Homo sapiens: one gene and its partners. The protein of the gene in region 1 purifies or fractionates together with the protein of each later gene. This does not show direct contact. Each region holds a gene or a part of one and is shown on either strand. Other genes may lie near its edges. The genes, in order: AKR1C3, HABP4 and CMBL.

Region 1 (3,653 bases):
CTGGTAGCAAGACCTTTCATTATTTAGACAGTACAGAAAAGTAAATAAGTCAATTGAAGACAAAAGAGAGGCAAGAATATTATTTGTGAATGAATGTTTCATTTATGGTAGAGTAAAAAATCAAGATATGTGAGCAAATGTGAATGCTTTTCAATAATTGTTGGTGGCACCTTTTGATATCAATTTAGAAATTCCATGTGCATATTTGGGTTTTTATTTTACTTAGTATTGAAAAAGAAATTCATTTGAATTTACAACTAATTTATAAGTAAAGAGAATTACCAATTTTGCAAGATAACATATTAAAAGATTGTCATGTTCCCAATATAAGAAAAGACATGCCACTCATCAACCACAGGAAAGAGGCATGAATAATTTAACTACATGAAAAGTAGCAACTTTTGTTCATGAATACATAACTACAGAGAAAACCACAGCACATATGCAATTTGGGAGGTGGTACTTCAATAATACATCTAAATCTCTAAACGATTAATACCCAGAATATATATATGTATGTATGTGTAATCTATCTCATATATCTTATTAAACTATAATATATATATCAATCTATCATATATATTAACCTATCATATATTAATCCATCATAGATTAATAAGAAACACTTCCTCCAACACTCACATGTCCCTGTATCCACTTGCTTGGTTATATGAATTTCTAGCTCTTTCCAATAAGTGGTGGTGTCTGTTTACCCATCCCTTGAGTCTGGCCTGTCCTGTAATGTGGGTAATATTTGCCAGAAGCAATGGCGTGGCAGCCCTGAGCCTAGACATGAAAAGGCTTTGCATGTGTCCACTCACTGCCTTGGGGTCATGCCATGTGCTGAGGTGAAGTCTGGGCTGGATGGCTGCAGGATGAACTATATGGAGGAGAAAATGGCACCCAGACAAATGTCCCATTGACATCTTGAAGCAGAGCTATCTCGTTGTCCTGCAAACACATGAGAGAGCCCAGCCAAGAACAGAACTTGACTAAGTTCAGGCTGAGGCCATGCTAATTTTCTAACTAGAGAATCCTGAGTAAATCAGTGGTTTTCATCTTAAACCCCTATGTTGAGGGTGATTTGTTTAACAGCTCTATTTAATAGTATAATTATGGTCTCCTATACTTAAAAAAAAGACAAGCAACTAAGAGTCAAAGAAAGACTTAAACAGGCAGTACACAAACAGAAAACTCCAAGTGAATAAATATGTGAAATTTTAACTGAGCGTACGAAGAAATGGAAATGAAAAATCCACAATGACTGGTAGACTAAAGAACACCTAATGCTACTCCACATTTCTGAAGATGAAGAGGAGGCCAGGAGCGGTGGCTCACACCTGTAGTACCACTTTGGGAGGCCACAGCAGGTGGGTTGCCTGAGGTCAGGAGTTTGGAACTAGCCTGGCCAACATGGTGAAATACCTTCTCTATTAAAAATTACAAAAATTAGCCGGGCTTGGTGGTAGGCACCTGTAATCCCAGCTACTCAGGAGGCTGAGGCAGGAGAATCATCCCATCTGGGAGACAGAATGAGACTCTGTCTCAAAAAAAAAAAACCAAAACCAAACAAACAACATGAAAAAATGATGTTCCTGGTGCAGGGATGCAGAGTAGATTGTCAACTTAATGCTGAAATAAAAAAATCTCCATTTTTGGTCCCATCTTAATTCTCTGCACCTGTGCTGCCTCTCCCGTGGTAGAGTAGAAGAAACCCTCAGGATGCACGCAAAGCATTCATATGGGAAATACAGGGAAATGGAGCTGGCCCAAGGCTGTCCTGAGAGCCTTACAAGAAGCACACGTGTGAAGGACACTGTGCAGGAGACCTGAGGCCCACAGCCCCGCTCCTCACCTGCACGTTCTGTCTGATGCGCTGCTCATTGTAGCTCTTGGCCAGGACCACAACCCCACGCTGCAGCTGGTAGCGCAGGGCAATCAGGGCTGGGGTTCGCTTGTGCTTTTTTGCCAAGGCACAAAGGACTGGGTCCTCCAAGAGCACCGGGGAGTTCGGGTCCACCCTGGAAGGAAAGGCAGAAAGGCTGAGGCCCTGAGGCTGGCGATAGTTTGTTAGGCGGCTCCCTAAACAGACTAAGGCATCCACTCTGCACCGGAGCTTCTCAAGCGAGGCCCCCGAGCATCACCATCAGCATCATCCAAGATCTCGTCAGAAATGCAATTCTCTTTCCTCTCCATGAGCCACTTGAAACTTAACTACAGGAAACTGAGGATGCTCTGACTAAAAAATTTTCTGCAAAATGAAGGTTTATGTAAAGGTCCCATTGTTTTTATTACCATCGTTTGTCTCGTTGAGATCCCAGAGCACTATAGGCAACCAGAACAATATCTTTCGACTTGCAGAAATCTAGCAATTTACTCCGGTTGAAATACGGATGACATTCTACCTGCAGTTGACCAAAAGAGAGAAGCATCAATTTATATGAAATAGTTATGTTAATATTGAAAAGATGAAAGTAAGGAAGCTGAATAATAATCAGTATAGCATTATATTTGAGCTGAGGATATTATTGTCAAGTAATAACCTTTTTCATAGAAATAAATTTTATATATCTTCTAAAAGTATAAATGGAAATGCCATTTCTGAACAGAAGCTCATCTATGAATCAGATCCTGGCTTCCAAAGACCTTTGACAACTAGAAGGAGATGTAACAAGTTCCATATCTGGGATACAGTAAGATTCTTAGAGCCTTTGGGCTTCAGATTGTGCCAGAAAGCAAGAATTTGGTCAAGGACTCGTGAGTGCAAGTCTGAAAGACAAAAGCACTACTTTCAAAGAAATGTCACTGGTGATGTTTGGATAGATTTCAGCATCAAGAAAAAAATCTACCCATTGGGTAAGAATGAGCACTAACAAAAATTAATAAAATTAATTAAAAATCTTAAGGAAAAATGTCCAAGTCCAGAGTAATGAGTGAGATAATCAGAGAGCAAGAAAGAACAAAATAATTTGCCTCCACCATTGGTGGTTATTATAGTAATCTCTTAGGAAATTGATATTTAGAGGCAAGTATTAAACTTTGTCTTTGAGGAATATTTGTTCTTCATTTTGATTTGGTGAAGGATTTTTTTTCATAGTAAAATGTCACGTAAGAATAGTTAAATAAGGTTTTAAAATTGAAAATGATTATCTAAAAACTCCAAAAAATAATAAATACAATAATAAATAACCATTAAATACAAAAGTATTAGTGATGTTTACACAATCATATGTGAAAATTTGTCATGGAATATGACTTCTTCTGTTAGGAATTATCACCCAGTGGATTATAAGTAATTGCTGAATGGGAAACCTATGATTATAAAGAACAGATCAGCTCACAACTTGTTTCCATTCTGTTTTAAAAGGGAGCACTATAAAAGACATTTCCATTAAACAGTGGGAAATTCAAATATAGACTGGATGTTAAACGACATGAGGGCATTGCAGTTCGTTTCCTTAGATACAATAATTATACTGTAGCTGGAAGAATGTCTTCATTTCTGTGACATACTTTATTTAGGTCTATAGAGGTGAATTGTCATCTTTCCAATTTATTTTAAAGAGATTTTGAAAATATTATATGTATTTATGCAGATATACCCACATAAACATTTGCCATAAATATTTGGCAATGTGGCAAAGTGTTAACAA
Region 2 (3,653 bases), on another chromosome or scaffold:
CTTCCATATATGTATTATTTCACTTAATAGCTATTTTTTCATGTCACATATAAAGATCTATTTTATCCTTTTTAAAGACTACACAGTCTTGCTACTAAAAAAGGGGGGAAACATGGGTTTGTGCAAGTGAACTATAATTTCCTCATTTCCACAGAATCCCTAAAGTGAGGGGAAAATAAATACCCAAATGCTTCCAAAAATAAGCAGCTCTGCTACAAGAAGCTTTGCAGAAACAAGGAGACTGTGCTTACTACACAGCAGATTTGAAGTAATCACCAAAAAAGGTGCAAAATTAAGGCTTTCTGTAAGTTTCTCCCTCCAACATGGTTGCAGATAGACTATCTCAATGTCTTGAATGTGTAACTTCCAGGTGAACAGTTCTGCATGAGTCATCACCTGCTCAGCCCACCCAGGCTAAGTTACTCTCTGCTGGACTTTTGTTTTGTTTTGTTTTTAATAGGCTCTATAGTATAGTTTTACAAAGCCACATTTTTTGGTTAAAACTTGTAGCCAGAATCCTAAATGGAATGGAATTAGCAGTCAAGAAGCAGAAAGAGTTTGGAAAAATGGCTCCCTTGACATATAACTGTTCACTATTCTAGTCTTCCTTAGCTTGTTTAACTTTATTTTCCTTGAAATGTGATTCACTACTTGTTTCTGTTTAACATAAACAGGTTTAATGATTAAACAAAGACTTTAAGCAGCAAGTGCCAAACATAAGACACAACCCCTCCCCGTGTTGAGGTGGAGTGCGGTGGCCACCATGCTGCCACATCACTAAGCAGCGACGCAACACTCCACCAGCCCACGACTTCTGTCCATGTTAGAGTACTTCGGAGAGCAGCCATGCCCTCCAGAAATTGGTATTACACATCATAACAGACTCTTCTTCAAATTTCATCATGGCAGCCTACTGACCTGACCGTGGAGCTAGGAATTTATTTCAATCCATTGAGCAGTCTAAATTGGTAATGTGAAATCAAAAACCATAATTATATCCCTAGTCCAAAATTATATCTCTAATCTAGAACTTCAAAAGAAAACCAGTTCAACACACTCCTGTGTAATTTCTTTTTAAGAGTGCTCTTCAGTTACCAACAAGCAATTCATTTTTAATTGTACAATCATTTCCTGAACCAAGACGTAAAGGCATCTATGAGGAAAAAGGAAGATCCTTCCCATCATCTAAGGTAACATGAATTGCACATAAATTAGTAAAACATTCCTAGGACTGGTACCACAAAAAGCAGTAGCCAGTAGAAAGTTGTATTTTCTGGGCCGGGCATGGTGGCTCACTCCTGTAATCCCAGCACTTTTGGCAGGCCAAGGCAGGTGGATCACCTGAGGTTGGGAGTTCAAGACTAGCCTGACCAACATGGAGAAACCCCGTCTCTACTAAAAATACAAAATTAGCCGGGCGTGGTGGCACATGCCTGTAATCCCAGCTACTTGGGAGGCTGAGGCAGGAGAATTGCTTGAACCCGGGAGCGGAGGTTGCAGTGAGCCGAGATCGCACCATTGCACTCCAGCCTGGGCGACAAGAGCGAAACTGTCTCAAAAAAAAAAAAAAAAGAAAGAAAGAAAAGAAAAAGAAAGTAGCATTTTCTCAAAACCTTTCTGGTTCCCCACCCGCCCTGCTGAGGACTGCAGCACATACTTTTCATCTGGAAACTTCTCAGCTGTGAAGTCTGCCTGCCTCTCTGTCTCATAGGGTCGGTATTCCCTGTAGGATCTCCGCTCAGCTCTTTCGAGCATCCCCTCCGGCCCACGGCTGTCATTCCATCCTTGCTGCTCCCCTCTTCTAGGAGTCCGCTTCTGGCCTACCAACAGAAAATCAAAGCAGAGAGCTGGAACACAACATCTGCAACAGCACACTATTAAACTTTACAGGTACTTGTAAATTTCATTTTTCTAGAAATCAACGTCATAGGAGAATTCAGGAAGTTTAGAAAACTTCAAAGAAAAAAGTTGCTGATACTACAACTGCCCACAGTCTACTTTTTAATAGGATGTTACTATTAAATCATGCTTTCCCTATATCCTAGAAAGTATATGACCAACTAAGCTCACCTATAATTACAGGCATCTCCCAATAACTGTGACAGCCATGGGTACATTTTACTAAATAAGCTACAGTTCACAAAAGCAGTCTTACAAAAACACAGTGTGTAAGCCGTACCTAGAAAATGAAAGAATACCCTATATTTCAGACTGTACTTTTAGAATCCCAACTGCACATTACATAGCAACTATGGCTTATCACTGGCTACTAAGGTTTTTGTTTTTATTTTGTATTTTTTTAATTTATTTACTTAATTACTTATTTTGAGACAGAGTCTTGCTCTGTCACCCAGCCCGAAGTGCAGTGCACTGTTTAATCTTGGCTCACTGCAATCTCCGCCTCCCAGGCTCAAGCAATTCTCATGCCTCAGCCTCCCAAGATGCTGGAATTACAGGCATGTGCCACCATGCCCAGCTAATTTTTGTATTTTTAATAGAGACAGGGTTTCACCATGTTGGCCAGGCTGGTCTCGAACTCCCAGCTTCAAGCAATTCACCCACCTCACCCTCCTGAAGCACTGGGATTACAGGCATGAGCCTCAGCGCCTGGCCAAGGTTTTTGTTTTTAAAGTTTGTAGTGCTTATATTTTTACTTTGAAAACAGATTTTCCTGCTATTCTATGAGATATATAGACTTGCAGTTATAACTTCCTGAATATGAACCAAACACTGCTATTTGGCAACTTGCCCAAGAGTCAGCCAGTACTTGAGGGCATCTCTTTTTGTCCACTCAGTCCAGCACTTGGACACTGTGCTGGGACCACAGACTCTGGTTTTGTTCTTGTGTTTTTTTTTTGAGACTGAGTTTCACTCTTGTTGCCCAGGCTGGAGTGCAATGGCCCGATCTCGGCTCACTGCAACCTCCGCCTCCCGGGTAGAGATTAGCTGGGATCACAGGCCTGCGCCACCACGCCTGGCTAATGTTGTATTTTCAGTAGAGACGACGTTTCTCTAACCTGGTCAGGCTGGTCTCCTCAGCCTCCCAAAGTGCCAGGATTACAGGCGTGAGCCACCGTGCCCGGCCGAGACTCTGGTCTTTTCCTCTGTCCTGTCACCTTGCTTTACTCCCCTTTAGTTTTAATGCTTTAAACATCTTAAGCAAAGTCTATGTTTGAAGCCATCTAATACTTGGTAAATACATTGTGGAGAACTTTGTCACATCTTTAATCTTCAAAAAAAGTCTATCTTTTTTTATATACATTTAAAAGATCTCCTCTCACTATGTGCAATATTTACTATAGTGGCTTCAATTTTTCTTGGTACAAATTACTCTCCACATTAGTTGTATAGCTATGACATTTATTCAAGTTAATGGATATATATATATATATATATATATATATATATATATATATATTTTTTTTTTTTTTTTTTTTTTGAGATGGAGTCTTGCTCTGTTGCCCAGGCTGGAGTACAGCGGCGCCATCTCGGCTCACTGCAAGCACCGCCTCCCGGGTTCACGCCATTCTCCTGCCTCAGCCTCCCCAGTAGCTGGGACTATAGGCGCCCGCCACCACGCCCAGCTAATTTTTTGTATTTTTAGTAGAGACGGGGTTTCACCGTGTTACCCAGGATGGTCTCAATCTCCTGAC
Region 3 (3,653 bases), on another chromosome or scaffold:
ACACCATAGACTATACTCAGCCATAAGAAAGAACAAAATAATATCTTTTGCAGCAACTTGGATGGAGCTGGAGGTCATTTCTCTAAGGGAAGTAACTCAGGAATGGAAAACCAAATACTGTATGTTCTCACTTATAAGTGGAAGCTAAGCTATGAGTAGATTCACAGAGGCACATAGAGTGATATAATGGACTATGGAGACTCAGAAGGGGGAGGGTGGGAGGGTGTGAGGGCCAAAAAACTATATATTAGGTAAACTGTACACTACTCGGTGACAGATGCACTAAAATCTCTATTTTCATAGATGGTGCTCATAAAAATATTGTTTGATATTGATCATCATCACATAAAGAATGCTATCCCCGCTGGGTGCAGTGGCTCACGCCTATAGTGAGACCCCATCTCTATTTTATTTTAAAATTTTTAATTAATTAATTTCTTTTTTTTTTGAGATGGAGTCTCGCTCTGTCCCCCAGGCTGGAGTGCAGTGGTGCCATCTTGGCTCACTGCAATCTCCGTCTCCCAGGTTCAAGCAATTCTCATGCCTCAGCCTCCCAAGTAGCTGGGACTACAGGCGTGCGTCATGACACCCAGCTAAGTTTTTGGTTTGTTTGTTTGTTTTTTGTATTTTTAGTAGAGGCAGGTTTCACCATGTTGGCCAGGCTGGTCTCAAACTCCTGATCTCAAGTGATCAGCCAGCCTCAGCCTGCCAAAGTGCTGGGATTACGGGTGTGAGCCACCATGCCCGGCCTAAAAATTTTAATTACAAAAAAAATCCCAGCACTTGAGACCAGCCTGGCCAACATGGTGAAACCCCGTCTCTACTAAAAATACAAAAATTAGCCGGGCTGGTGGCAGGCGCCTGTAATCCCAGCTACTCGGGAGGCTGAGGCAGGAGAATTGCTTGAACCTGGGAAGCACAGGTTGCAGTGAGCCGAGATCATGCCACTGCTCTCCAGCCTGGGCTCCAACAGAGCAAAAACAAAAAAAAATTTTTTCTCCTTTGTGCCAGGGGAAGGATTCCATTGGCCATGGAGAAGTCCTACCCCAAGGTAAGGAGTAGTGTCTGAAAGGTGAAGCCCACCCAGCTCTCACCTCCCTGGGCCACAACGTGCACATGGCCACGTCTGCGGATAACTCACCTATCGATCTTCTGGGCATTTCTTGTTTTCAGCCACTCAGGGAAGATAGACCAGTCGCCAGAGGGGTCCCAAGGCTCTTGCCCTACAAAGAAGTCTGGAACAATGGTTCTGCAAAATATGGACATGAATTGATCTTAGTTTCAGAGTTGCTTGACTCAGTATTTTGCTTGCATTTATTTAAAAACTTGCTACGTTGGCGATTCTGGCTCAGAGAAAAGGAAAAGTAGTGGGTGTGAAGGCCAATTTTGATCGCAGCAAAGCAGCCACCTGGCACCGGGCCAAGCCCTCTTAGGTTTCACAACCGCAGGTGCACAGCGTCTGGCAGCCTGCTGGTAACCCAGCCCTGGCAATGAGGCTATCCACAGGGCACACTCCCATGGGATAGGCTGGCATGGGATGTGGAGGCACCTGGGGGAGTGGGCCTGACGTGGGTGGCTTTGAGGGCCCCTCCTGCCCCTCTCAGCCAGCCTGGGGAGACTCCTGGCCTTTCACATGAGCCTCAGGCCAGAGGGCACACCTGGCTAACTTGTCCAGTCACTATGACCAGGCAATGTTCCCAGCCTCCACCAAGACGGCGACGAAGCACAGTTTCCTATCCAGAGGGTATGTTCTAAGACGGGCAGCAGAGCACAAACAAGCCTGGCCCCAGTCCAGGTCGCTCTTCCATGCAAGTCAACCCAGAGGGATAGAGCCAGCCGCTGGGGTTGAGTCCTGTTTCCCAAAATAGAATTGCCACCTGGTTGGAGGAACAGGGCTCCTCCTATAGGGGTAGAAGAACACTGAAACTGGAGTGAGAAAATCCAAGTTCGAGGCTCGGTACACCCCATGCTGCTGTGTGGCCTTGGCCTTCACAAGTCATGTCACCGCTTCTAGCCTCATTTTCTCATCTGACAAACTTGCACTGCCTAACCCCAGAGGATCCTCTCGAGGGCAAAAAAAGTTGTATACCTGTGAAAGGGCTTTGTAAAACAGGGGTCTTTCCTTATCTTTTATGTCCTGACCCCTGCTAAAGGACCCTCCGTGAAACAACAGAAACAGCAATGCCATTTGATCGGCTGCTTGGGCCAGTGATCTGGGGCAGCCGCAAAGCGCTCTCTTTATGGCCTGGTTTCCTAATCTGCAAAATGAGAGCAATAACAGCTCCTCCCTCAAGGGGCTGCCAGGAGGACTAAGGGCAATGAGCCCAGTCATGCCCTCAGCACTGCGTCTGGCTGAGCAACTGAAACTAGCTATTTATTTACTTATTTATTTTTACTGGGCTTGCCCCTAGAAAGTTAAGTCCCCTCACATGGGGACGTGAAAAAGGAAAACTTCAAGGAAGGTCTTTTCATTCAGCACCGACTCTGCATCCCACCAGGGTGGGCATGATTCCTTTAAGCCAGTTTCTCTTCCTAGAAAAACAAGGTAGGCTCATCCTCGGGTTTCCAGCTTCTCCTTCTGTGAAAACAAAGGAAATCCAGCCGTGCACCATCCTCAGGGCTCACTGGGTTGATGCTTTCCGACGCTGGAGAGGAAGGAAGGTTCTGGCCCTCCTCTGCGCTTTACACCGGGGCAAATAAGAAGCAATCGGGTATCAGCCTTGGCCAAAGGTGGCCATGGCCACTTGGCCAGACAAAGAGGTAAACTTGGGGAGGGGAGCAAGGTCTCACTGTGCCACTTCTGAACCCCAGTCTAATTCAGAGGGGGCCACGACCGTACGTGTATGGACCAGGAGGAGCCTTGGACACCCTGCCGTCCAAATGGGCCGTGAAATCTGACACGAGGCTGAGCTGTTGAAGGACCGAGTCACGGGTCCATTTGACAGCAGGTGAGGCTGGCCTCAGATGTCCAGTGCCTGCGTCTGGCTGAGGCCCCACACGGGAAAAGAATTCTCAATGTCCAGCAAGTCTAAAGGCCAGGTACTCCCAGGAGGACAGGAAACCCAGGAATGGGGTTAGGAGCACCAGGTGGGTGTTTAATTTCCCAAGACATTTCCCATCTATCTTCACGGCAGTGAGATAGGGAAGTTTCTAATGTACAGTAGATACTGTATAGTCAGACCGCTGTGGTTTTATTTTTTAAAGGGAACAAAATAAACCACTGAAATTTGTATGAATTTAAACAAAGAAACACAACTTTATACATACGTGTATCCATTTCCTGAGATCATGTCAGCTATATATCTGGTATTGGGCAACTGCCAGCCAAATATATCTTGAATGACAATCACAGCTTTGCCTGCATCAACGGGGGATTTGGTGACATAAGCCTTGATGTGCTCGACTTGAACTTCACGGCCTAGCCCTCCATACTCAAGTCTGTGGCCAATGTCACACGGACAAGGATAAGCTTCGTTAGCCATTGCAGAGATTTAAGTCGGGCTATGGAGAGAGAAACATGCGTTATATTCTGAATGCTGCAAATCTAAAGGCTATAAATGGTAAGTAAACCTCAAATCAAGATTATAGAAAAAAATTCATTTTAGCTACATCTATGGTATTATGTGAGAAACCAATGGTAACTTCTGGTTCTG

The links.
Region 2: the proteins of AKR1C3 (region 1) and HABP4 purify together in Homo sapiens (affinity purification with mass spectrometry; one large-scale study listed by BioGRID and IntAct). This does not show direct contact.
Region 3: the proteins of AKR1C3 (region 1) and CMBL fractionate together in Homo sapiens (co-fractionation; one large-scale study listed by BioGRID). This does not show direct contact.

The regions. Positions count from the first base shown.
Region 1 is NC_000010.11:5,100,853-5,104,505, reverse strand, and holds part of AKR1C3 (aldo-keto reductase family 1 member C3), read right to left. Parts: intron 2,406-3,653; coding exon 2,296-2,405; intron 2,022-2,295; coding exon 1,856-2,021; intron 1-1,855. UniProt on the Homo sapiens protein: Cytosolic aldo-keto reductase that catalyzes the NADH and NADPH-dependent reduction of ketosteroids to hydroxysteroids.
Region 2 is NC_000009.12:96,456,546-96,460,198, reverse strand, and holds part of HABP4 (intracellular hyaluronan-binding protein 4), read right to left. Parts: intron 1,821-3,653; coding exon 1,658-1,820; intron 1-1,657. UniProt on the Homo sapiens protein: Ribosome-binding protein that promotes ribosome hibernation, a process during which ribosomes are stabilized in an inactive state and preserved from proteasomal degradation.
Region 3 is NC_000005.10:10,287,281-10,290,933, forward strand, and holds part of CMBL (carboxymethylenebutenolidase homolog), read right to left. Parts: intron 3,502-3,653; 5' UTR 3,483-3,501; coding exon 3,268-3,482; intron 1,250-3,267; coding exon 1,142-1,249; intron 1-1,141. UniProt on the Homo sapiens protein: Cysteine hydrolase. Can convert the prodrug olmesartan medoxomil into its pharmacologically active metabolite olmerstatan, an angiotensin receptor blocker, in liver and intestine. May also activate beta-lactam antibiotics faropenem medoxomil and lenampicillin.